Linked DNA regions of Homo sapiens: region 2 is linked to region 1. Evidence: fine-mapped expression QTL. A gene starts in region 1. The other region holds a variant in brackets. All regions are shown on one strand. Distances are from middle to middle. Region 1 holds the start of SPSB1 (splA/ryanodine receptor domain and SOCS box containing 1). Region 2 has its middle 6.4 kb from the start of LINC02606.

Region 1 (4,378 bases):
TTCAGTAGAGATGGAGTGTTGCCATGTTGGCCAGGCTGGTCCTGAACTTCTTTTTTTTTTTTTTTTTTTTTTTTTGTGAGACGGAGTCTCGCTCTGTCACCTGGGCTGGAGTGCAGTGGCGCAATCTCGGCTCACTGCAATCTCTGCCTCCCGGGTTCACACCATTCTCCTGCCTCAGCCTCCCAAGTAGCTGGGACTTACAGATGCCCGCCACCACGCCTGGCTAATTTTTTATATTTGTAGTAGTGACGGGTTTCATCGTGTTAGCCAGGATGGTCTCCATCTCCTGACCTCGTGATCCGCCCGCCTCGACCTCCCAAAGTGCTGGGATTACAGGTGTGAGCCACCAAGCCCAGCCTGGTCCTGAACTTCTGACCTCAGGTGATCCACCTGCCTCAGCCTCCCAAAGCGCTGGGATTACAGGTGTGAGCCATCATGCCCGGCCAATTATTATTATTATTATTTAATTTTTGTGCAGAGTCTGTGTCTTGCTCTGTTGCCCGGGCTGCTCTTGAACTCCTGGGCTTAAGTGATCTGCCTGCCTCAGCCACCCAAAGTGTGGGGATTAAGGGCGTGAGAGCCACCACCTCCAGCCTCAAGTGATCTTTTAAATGGGAAGCACCCCTAAGCTGCTGGCCATGGCTGCCCACCTGACTAGTCTGGGTTCAACATTCCTAAACCGCTGGCACCTGGAAAGTCAGAATGCCCACTCAGGCCCGCCCAGCCCAGGGCAGTTGGTTGAGTCTCCGTAATCCTATTCTGAGTTCAAACAAAGCTAAACCAAACTGATTTTCAGCACCGTAAAATGAGAGACATCAAACTTTGTAATCTCACAGTTCAATTGGGTTCCAAGCTCTGGACAGCTGGCCTCGGGCCAGGCACTGTTTCCTCGCCTTTACAGTGAGTGTGTCATTAGTCCCACCCTCACTGTACTGGGTTATGGTAAAGACACAGTAACTACGGAAGCCCCGCTATTTGTTTCGGCTCCCCCAGAAAGGCTAACTCCTCACCGTTTTCAATGGACACTACACAGCGAGGGGTGGGGAATGCCAGGAGATTTTGCTCTCAAAACAGCAAAGTCTTTAAAATCTTCCCAGTCCCAAGTGACTGCTCTGTTCGGGGAAGGGGGAGGAAAATTCCTTGAACGAGCTAGAGCCACAGGACAAGTCCCCAGAGGCTGGGACCTGTTCAGGGAGCAGCCCTGCGGATGCCAGGTGCCCGCGCCCTCAGGGTCTCGAGGTCCGAGGCCCCCGTCCCCGTGGGCACCGAAACGCGAGCGGCCGAAACAGCGCTGCAGGAGGCTCCCTGGACCCCCGGCGGCTGCCCACTCGTCCCCGCTGGGCACTTCAGAGGAGGCCGGCGAGGCCTTGCTCGGGGTTCCTGGGACAACCCCACTCTCCGCGAAGATTTCTCCTTCTCGTAAGACCCCCGCCCCCACTCCAGCCTCCCACGGCTGCAACCCAGGCCCTGCGCCACGCGTTTCCCAAAGACGCCTCCGGAGGGACCCGAGCTTCGGGCCGGCAACACCAGGGCGGCGGCTCGGGAGAGGGCTGCGGACTAAGGGGGCGGAGGGGGCGGCCGAACCAGCGCCGGGCTGACGCGCCCCGCGCCCCGCGCCCCGCGCCCCCGGCCTTCCCTGCAGTGCTGAGTGGTCCGTGCGCCCGAGGTCGGGGGCGGGGCGGGGCGGGGCGGGGCAGGGACGGCCCCGCCCACCGGCGCTTTTCTCTTTTTTTTCACTTTAAAGCCGTCGGTTGCTTTTTCTCCTCCGCACAGAAGTCGCGCTCGGGCAGCCTGCGCGCTCGCAGCAGGAACCAGGCTCCAGGCGCCGGCGCCGGGGCCGGGGCCGCGGGGAGGAGGCGACTTCGCTCCCTGCGGCGGGCGCGGCCCGGGCGCCCGAGCCTCCTCGGCCTTGGAGAGCAGCGGCGGCGGCGGCACCCCGGGCGCGGTAGGCGGCGCGGGGCACCTGGGACCCCGATGGGTGGGCGACCGGCCCGGGAGGGGGAGGCGCGGGGGGCCGGGCGAGGGCGGACGCGGGGATCGCGCCGCTGGGGGACCGAGTGGGTGGCGCGGGGCCGGGCGCGGGGGAGCGGGTGGAGTACGGGATGGGGACTCGGGGCGCGGCCCCTCCCGCGGTGGCTCCGGGGGCGCCTCCCTCGCCGCGGCTCCTGGGAGAGGGGCCCAGGCCCGCCCCGCGCTGCCGCCGCTGCAGGGCAGGGGGTCCCGGGGCGAGGCGCGGCGGGGGTCTCGGGGCGCGGGGACCGTCGCAACGAGTTGCGGTCCCGAGGAGGGGCTGGGGCGCTCCGGGGCCGCCGACCCGTCCCCCCTTTAGCCCGGGGAAAGCGGGACCCCGCTCGGCTGAGTTAGTTTCGCTTTTCCCGCCAGTCCGAGTCGGGATTGGCGGCGCGGCCCGGTCCCCCGTCGGGGCGCCCCCACCCTCCCGCAGCGCCTCCCCCAGGGAGCCTGCCGGGGACACCCGAGCGCCGCCCTCCCCGCCGCCCCGGAGCCGCCGCGGCTTCTCCCAGCAGCGGAGGGAGAGCCGGAGGGTTGTCAGGAAATCGATTAAATCAGAAAAACAAGGGCGGCCTGGGCCCGCGGGAGGAACCGCGGATGGGTCACCGTCCCCGGGCGTGTACTGGGCTCGGTGGCGTCCAGGTTCCGGTGAGGACGGGACGGCCCCGAGAGGAGGGTGCGGGTCTGCAGGAAGAGCGGGTGTCTCTGAGAGTGCATCTGCGTGTGTGTTTGTGCATGTCCTTGTGAATATGTGCCTGCGTATGAGTGTGTCTGTGTGTTCATGTGGGTGTGTGTGTGAGTGTGTCTCTAAGTGCATCTGTGTATTTATGTGCCTCTGAGTGTGTGTGTGAGTCTGTGTGTCTGTCAATGTGTGCCTGAGACTCTAAGTGACTGTGTGTGTGTGTGTGTGTCTGAGTGCGTCTTTGTGTATTTGTGTGTGCCTCTCTGTGTATGTCTGTGTGTCTTTGTGTGTGTCTGTGTGTGAGTGTGTATGTGTCTTTGGGTGTGTGTCTCTGCAAGTTTGTGTCTCTGAGTGTCTGTCTCTGCAAATGTGTGTCTCTGTGTCTTTGTGTCTGTGTGTGTCTTTGCGTGTGTGTGTCTTTGTGTCTCTTTGTGTGTCCACACGTGTCTCTGTGTCTGTCTCTGTGTCTGTGTCTCTGAGTGCGTCTGTGTATGTGTGAGTGTCTGTGTGTCTCCAAGTGTGTGTCTGTGTGTCTTTGTGTGTGTTTCTCTGTGAGTGTGTGTGGGGACCATCCAGGGGGCCCTCTGGTTCCTAGGTACTGCTCCTCATGGTGATTTCTTTACTTGGTTCTGGATAGCCGGGCATGCTGGGCCACAGACACCCCACTAGGCAAGCCCTGCTGGTGCCCCCGAGGAGAGCGCAGGCTCTTCCTCTCTCCATTTCTCTGAAAATGAACTACACAGTTTGGGGGTGAGTTGGCAGGGGCTGCTTCCTGAGTGAGTAATATTTAATTAAACACTCCAGTCTGTAGCATCAGAAACTGGTCATGAGTTGAGTTTTAACAGGTGTTCATGGTAAAAGCGCCATCCCTGGTGACTAAGGTTTGATGTCCTTGGAAGAATTTTCTCGTTGGGGGGGCTGGGCCCACAACTTCATTTCTCATCGTGGGGTGTGAGGAGAACAGCAAGCAAGGAAGGGGATGGGGGCCTCTCCCTTCTGCCCTGTCCCCCTCCTCAGACCCCCCTCCCAGTGGTGGAAAGCCCTGGGCTAAGCATGGGCAGCACAGGTGGTCTCTCCACACTGAGGAATTTTGGAGTCAGGGAAGTCCTGTCTTACTGTCTAGGCCAGCCTGTCCTAGAGAGGCCCAGAGAGGGCGGTTCACTTACCCAGACTGCACAGCCAGGGCTGTGGACCAAGACTCCCCAGTCCTGAAACTGTTGCTCTTGGTTACTGTCCCCAGCACTGAGGTCATGGGCCAGGCACTTCGTGTCTCCCCAGCTGTGAAGTGATGGGCTGGATTAGATCATTTAAAGCACTCCTGCTCTCTTACAGCTGCTTTTCTTCTGCAGGGAGCACTTTACCCAGTAGATGGAGTGTGTGTGTGTGTGTGAGAGTGTGAGTGTGTGTGTGTGTGTGTGTGTGTGCGCGCGTGCGGTTGGGGAGGTGTGGAGTGGACTAAGGCAATCACTTTACAAGTCTTCCTTTTCCAGTCTGGCTACCACCCTAGCAGCAGAGAAAACAAAAGCAGTAGCATGTTGGCCCCAGTGGCTCAGACAGCCCCGAGCAGGGAGCAAGGCGGGTGCCATGCCGGCTTAAGAGAGACCTGGCCCTGGGAAGAATCAGTGGGTTTCAGGGCTCTTAGGAAGGGGTGGGCCTGCCTGGGGCCCTGGTGATGTCACTTTGGAG
Region 2 (4,378 bases), 130 kb after region 1:
GAATGGATTAATGTCAGGTTAGTTTCATCACCTTCTCAAAGAAAGCCAGGCTACAGAAACTTTGCTGGGCTGCCACTTCTGCACGGTTCAGCATTGTTGCTCTGCGAGGCTGACTTCAATGGATAAAGGATGATGGTAACTCTGGCTGGTTTCCAAGGCTTGCAGGGGGAGCGACACCCAGCCTCACCTTGGGAAGATTCTGCTTCTCCCACTCCCAGGGGAGGTACTGCTTTCCTTCTTCATCTGTTTCTTCTCTAAGAAGTCCCAGGTGGCAGGCCGGGCGCCGTGGCTCCTGCCTGTAATCCCAGCACTTTTGGGAGGCCGAGGCGGGTGGATCACGAGGTCAGGAGTTTGAGACCATCCTGACTAACACAGTGAAACCCCATCTCTACTAAAAATACAAAAAAATTAGCCAGGCGTGGTGGCAGGTGCCTGTAGTCCCAGCTACCTGGGAGACTGAGGCTGGAGAATGGCATGAACCCGGGAGGCGGAAGTTGCAGTGAGCTGAGATCGCACCACTGCACTCCAGCCTGGGTGACCAAAAAAAAAAAAAAAAAAGTCCCAGGTGGTAAGTTCATGAGTGGATAAAAATCTCAGTATAGGTCGAAGCAGATATTGGTGGTTGATGTTGGTGGTACAACAGTTCTTCTAGTTTCATTTTCTTTTCCTACCTGGCCCTCTGCTTGGCAGAACTGATATAGAAAAATCCACACACTCCCCAGTACACACAGCCCAAATATGTTTTTTATATGTTTAACAGTTTTATTGAGCTAGAATTTACTTACAAGAAGCTGCAGTAACGGAAAGTGTACAACTTAGTGAATGTTACCAGTTGCATATGCCTGGGAAACCACCACAATCAAGATAAAGCCAGATCTATTAGATTGGCTTCCTTGAATGGGTGACCCATTTTTTTTATTCTTGGCATTTTATTGGCAGGTGGCAGAAACTCAGCCCACACTACTTAGGCAAAGAAGAGGGGCTAGAGATGTGTGTAGTTGGAAAGTCCAGGAATACACCAGCTTCAGGTATGGCTGGCTTCAGGGGTTCAGAGGATGTCATGGGTGCCCTTTCTCCCCCTCTCAACCAAATTCTCTCTCTAGAGCTGGCAAGATGGCTGCTGGCAGTCCCCAACTAACATTCTATTTAGCAATGCCTAAGAAAAGGAGCAGTCTCCTCTGATGGCCCTGAGGAACTCCCATAGGGCAGCTTTGGGTCATGTGCCCAGCCCTGGATGGGGTAAAATCAGCACCGGGGATGTGTTTGTGAGAGCTGGGTGTGCTCATCTGTTCCCGAGTCCAAGGTCAGTGACGTCTCAGTGATGTTATGTCTGTAGCTTGAAGCTGGTAGTGGGGGAGTATTTACACCATGGAAATTGGCAAATGCTACAAATCAAGGCTTTCCTCCCTGTCCCCTCTGCCTGCCCCCAGCTGGCCATTAAACAGTTATGTACACTACCGAGTCAGTCCTACCTAAATCCATGAAATAGGTTCTCCTGAGGAAAGAGCTGTTCCGTTAATAAAAGAGGAAATTGACCCCAGTCAGACAGGAATAACCGAGGAACTTCACTCTGCTGAATTCAAAGCCACCTGCAGCAGACCTCAGGAAGGAGTCCTCCAAGATAACATCCCACCCCAAACCCCCAAGGGGACCAGACCAGGTTGAATCCACTGCAGAGATTGTTCAGCCAATACGGACCCTTCTAGAAGAAGGGCCCAGGCTTTGTTCCTCTCCGACAGCTCACCTCCCTCCCCCTACCCCCGACCCCAACCCCCAACCACTGCCAGTCACATTCTATGGAAAATTAAAGAACTTCCTAAGCCCGGCTGCTCTCTGCAAAGCCATTCCAGCAACCTAGACCCGTGATTTTCAGCTTGTTCAGCTATTTTAAAACAACCCTCGCAAAGCAGCCCCAGAAATGGGGGCTGCGGCTTGATTTGAGGTTAAACAAATAAGTACCATTTATCCACCAACGCTCTAGGAATGAAAGATTTCTTCAGGCTTATTCCCAAGCTGTGCGCTCCAGAAAA[G/A]CTGCTGTCCCAAATTGCCGGGTGCCAACCCAGTGTTCTTCATTTCCAAAGATACCTGGGGAGTTTTCAGCCGTGCTCTGCACAGAGCGCTAGGACGGATGGCAGTGTGGGCGGCCAGGCATGCCGCCTCAGCCTCCGCTCAGCCTCACCCTGGGTCTTCTTGGCTGTGTCAGCCTCTCATCCCGGGACCCACAGAACCCTTGGAGCTCCCGGGGCATTTCTTGGCCTGCTGGGAAATGGCGCCTCTCCATCTTAGGGGGCCCGGACCAGACTGCTGGCTGTTTGAGTCAGACAGCTTTTCTTCCCATGTTTTGAGGGTAAGCAAGAACGAGAAAAAGGAAGAAAACAAAACATATTCTCAAACAAATAAAACTGCACTCCATCGGCCAGAAAAGCTGAGCCTCTCTGGGATGTAGGGAACAGAAGCCACTCCACAGAGGACTCTCCCATCCCTTTCTCTCTAGGAGACATCCGTCTTTGTGCCCAAACTGGAAATCTGAACCGCAAGCTCTCTCATCTCCCTACTCTTGGAAGTTTTCTGTGGCAGAAACAATAATGTTCACTACACAGACCGTTGACTCCCCTGGGTTTCCCAGCTGTGCCATATGGCTAGCTTTGGCCGATGAAATTGAGCAGAAGTGATACGTGTCATTTCCAGGCTGAGGCAGTAAAAAGCTGGTGCGCCCTTCTCCAGGGTCTGTTTCCCAGCTGCCGCAGCCATGGAGGCCGTGTGTCCCAGATGGTGCAGCTACAGCTGATGGAACTTCCGTCAGCCTGGGTCCCTGAGTGAGTCTGTGGAAGAGAACTGCAACTGCCTGCCGACCTGCTGGGACAGACAACATGAGCAAGAAGTAAGCTTTCGCTGGGCTCAGCCACTGAGACCCAGGGGCTGTTTGTTACCATAGCGTTGCCTGGCACACCTGATTCAAGCTCCTGACACGCTCTGTAGACTTTGCTGTGTTGTTCACTGGGAGGCACCAGCATGCATGAGATAGAAAACACTTCCTTCCACTCTGGCCAATAGCCTTCACTCAAAATAGTGCCGATGAGTTTACATCCAGCCCCAAAGATTTAAGGAATTTCTCTCTGAGCTTGGGACCAGGTCTGTGCCTTCCTTTGTATTTCTCTACAGCACATGGTTGGCACTAGTATAAAAATGGCACTCTTCCACATGCCAAGGCATTTAACAGGCATGAAGCACGTTTGCTGATGATCTCCCATGAGGTGGAGGAGATAGGCTTAATTCCTGTTTTAAAGCTAAGAGCATTGCAGCTCAGAAGGATCACATTCAAGGTCACACAGCTAATTATAGTACTTGAACCTAGGTCTGTGTCTCTTGCCACAAAAACCAGTATTTCTCAAAATGTAGTTCTGGCCAGGTACGGTGGCTCACACCTGTAATCCCAACACTTTGGGAGGCCGAGGCAGGCAGATCACTCGAGGCCAGAAGTTCGACACCAGGCTGGCCAACATGACAAAATCCCTATCTCTACTAAAAATACAAAAATTAGCTAGGCGTGGCAGTGCATACCTGTAGCCCCACCTACTTGGGAGGCTGAGGCACAAGAGTCGCTTGAAGCTGAGAGGCAGAGGTTGCAGTGAGCTGAGATCACGCCACTGCACTCCAGCCTGGATGACAGAATGAGACTCTGTCTCAAAAAAAAAAAAAATGTAGTTCAGAGACTGAAAGCCAGGACCTGGGAATGTGCATTTTTTAAGTTCCTCAGGCCATAATTATGCTGAGTTTGAGAATCCTTGCCCCACATTGCTTCCAACCATCCTGCCAGCTTTCTACAGTGGGAGGGGAGCAGTGGGAATTTAGAGGTGAGCCAAAGGCTTACTTCCCCAACTAAAGCAACAAATAAAAAATGTCTCCCCTGCCAGACTGCTCTTTGTGCCTGAAATTATCCCAAAAGACTCATTTCTTTGGGTAAAAATACAAACAGTCCTAGATCACTCGGGACCTTCTCATGAATGAACTCGGGTGATTCCCAGCCAGGAACAATGGCTTGTACGAAGTCACTCTGCAATGTCAGCTTTTGCGGGGAAACATCAGTCAAGAGTCAAGACCTTGAACTGAAAAGGCAAATCCAGCTGGAGGTTGCAGGTGGTGAGATCCTGGACAGCAGGGAGAGGCTTAGCATCAATGGGGTGGGGGTGGGATGGGGTGGGGGTGGGGTGAAGGTGGTGGAGGACTCCCAGGAGAGAAAAAAAAATGCAACTGGGGGTAAGTGTGAAGCCACACATACCAGAGTCAGAAAGAACTGGAGGCCAGGTGTGGTGGCTCATGCCTGTAATCCCAGCACTTTGGGAGGCCAAGGCAGGTGGATCGCCTGAGGTCAGGAGTT

Evidence for each region. PIP is the estimated chance that this variant, and not a neighbour inherited with it, causes the effect. A credible set is the group of variants that fine-mapping cannot tell apart.
Region 2: its variant is the best candidate, but not a certain one, in a credible set for the expression of SPSB1 in whole blood (TOPMed, PIP 0.67).

What each region holds. Positions count from the first base shown.
Region 1 is chr1:9,291,127-9,295,504 of GRCh38, forward strand. SPSB1 (splA/ryanodine receptor domain and SOCS box containing 1) reads left to right here and starts at 1,768. Exons shown (of 3, transcript NM_025106.4): 1 at 1,768-1,945. RefSeq lists silencers at 1,433-1,602, 1,653-1,732, 1,803-1,872, 2,413-2,702.
Region 2 is chr1:9,420,359-9,424,736 of GRCh38, forward strand. No RefSeq gene overlaps it. Among named protein-coding and RNA genes, the nearest start is that of LINC02606, 6.4 kb to the right of the region's middle. The variant G/A (reference allele first, on the strand shown) is at 2,031.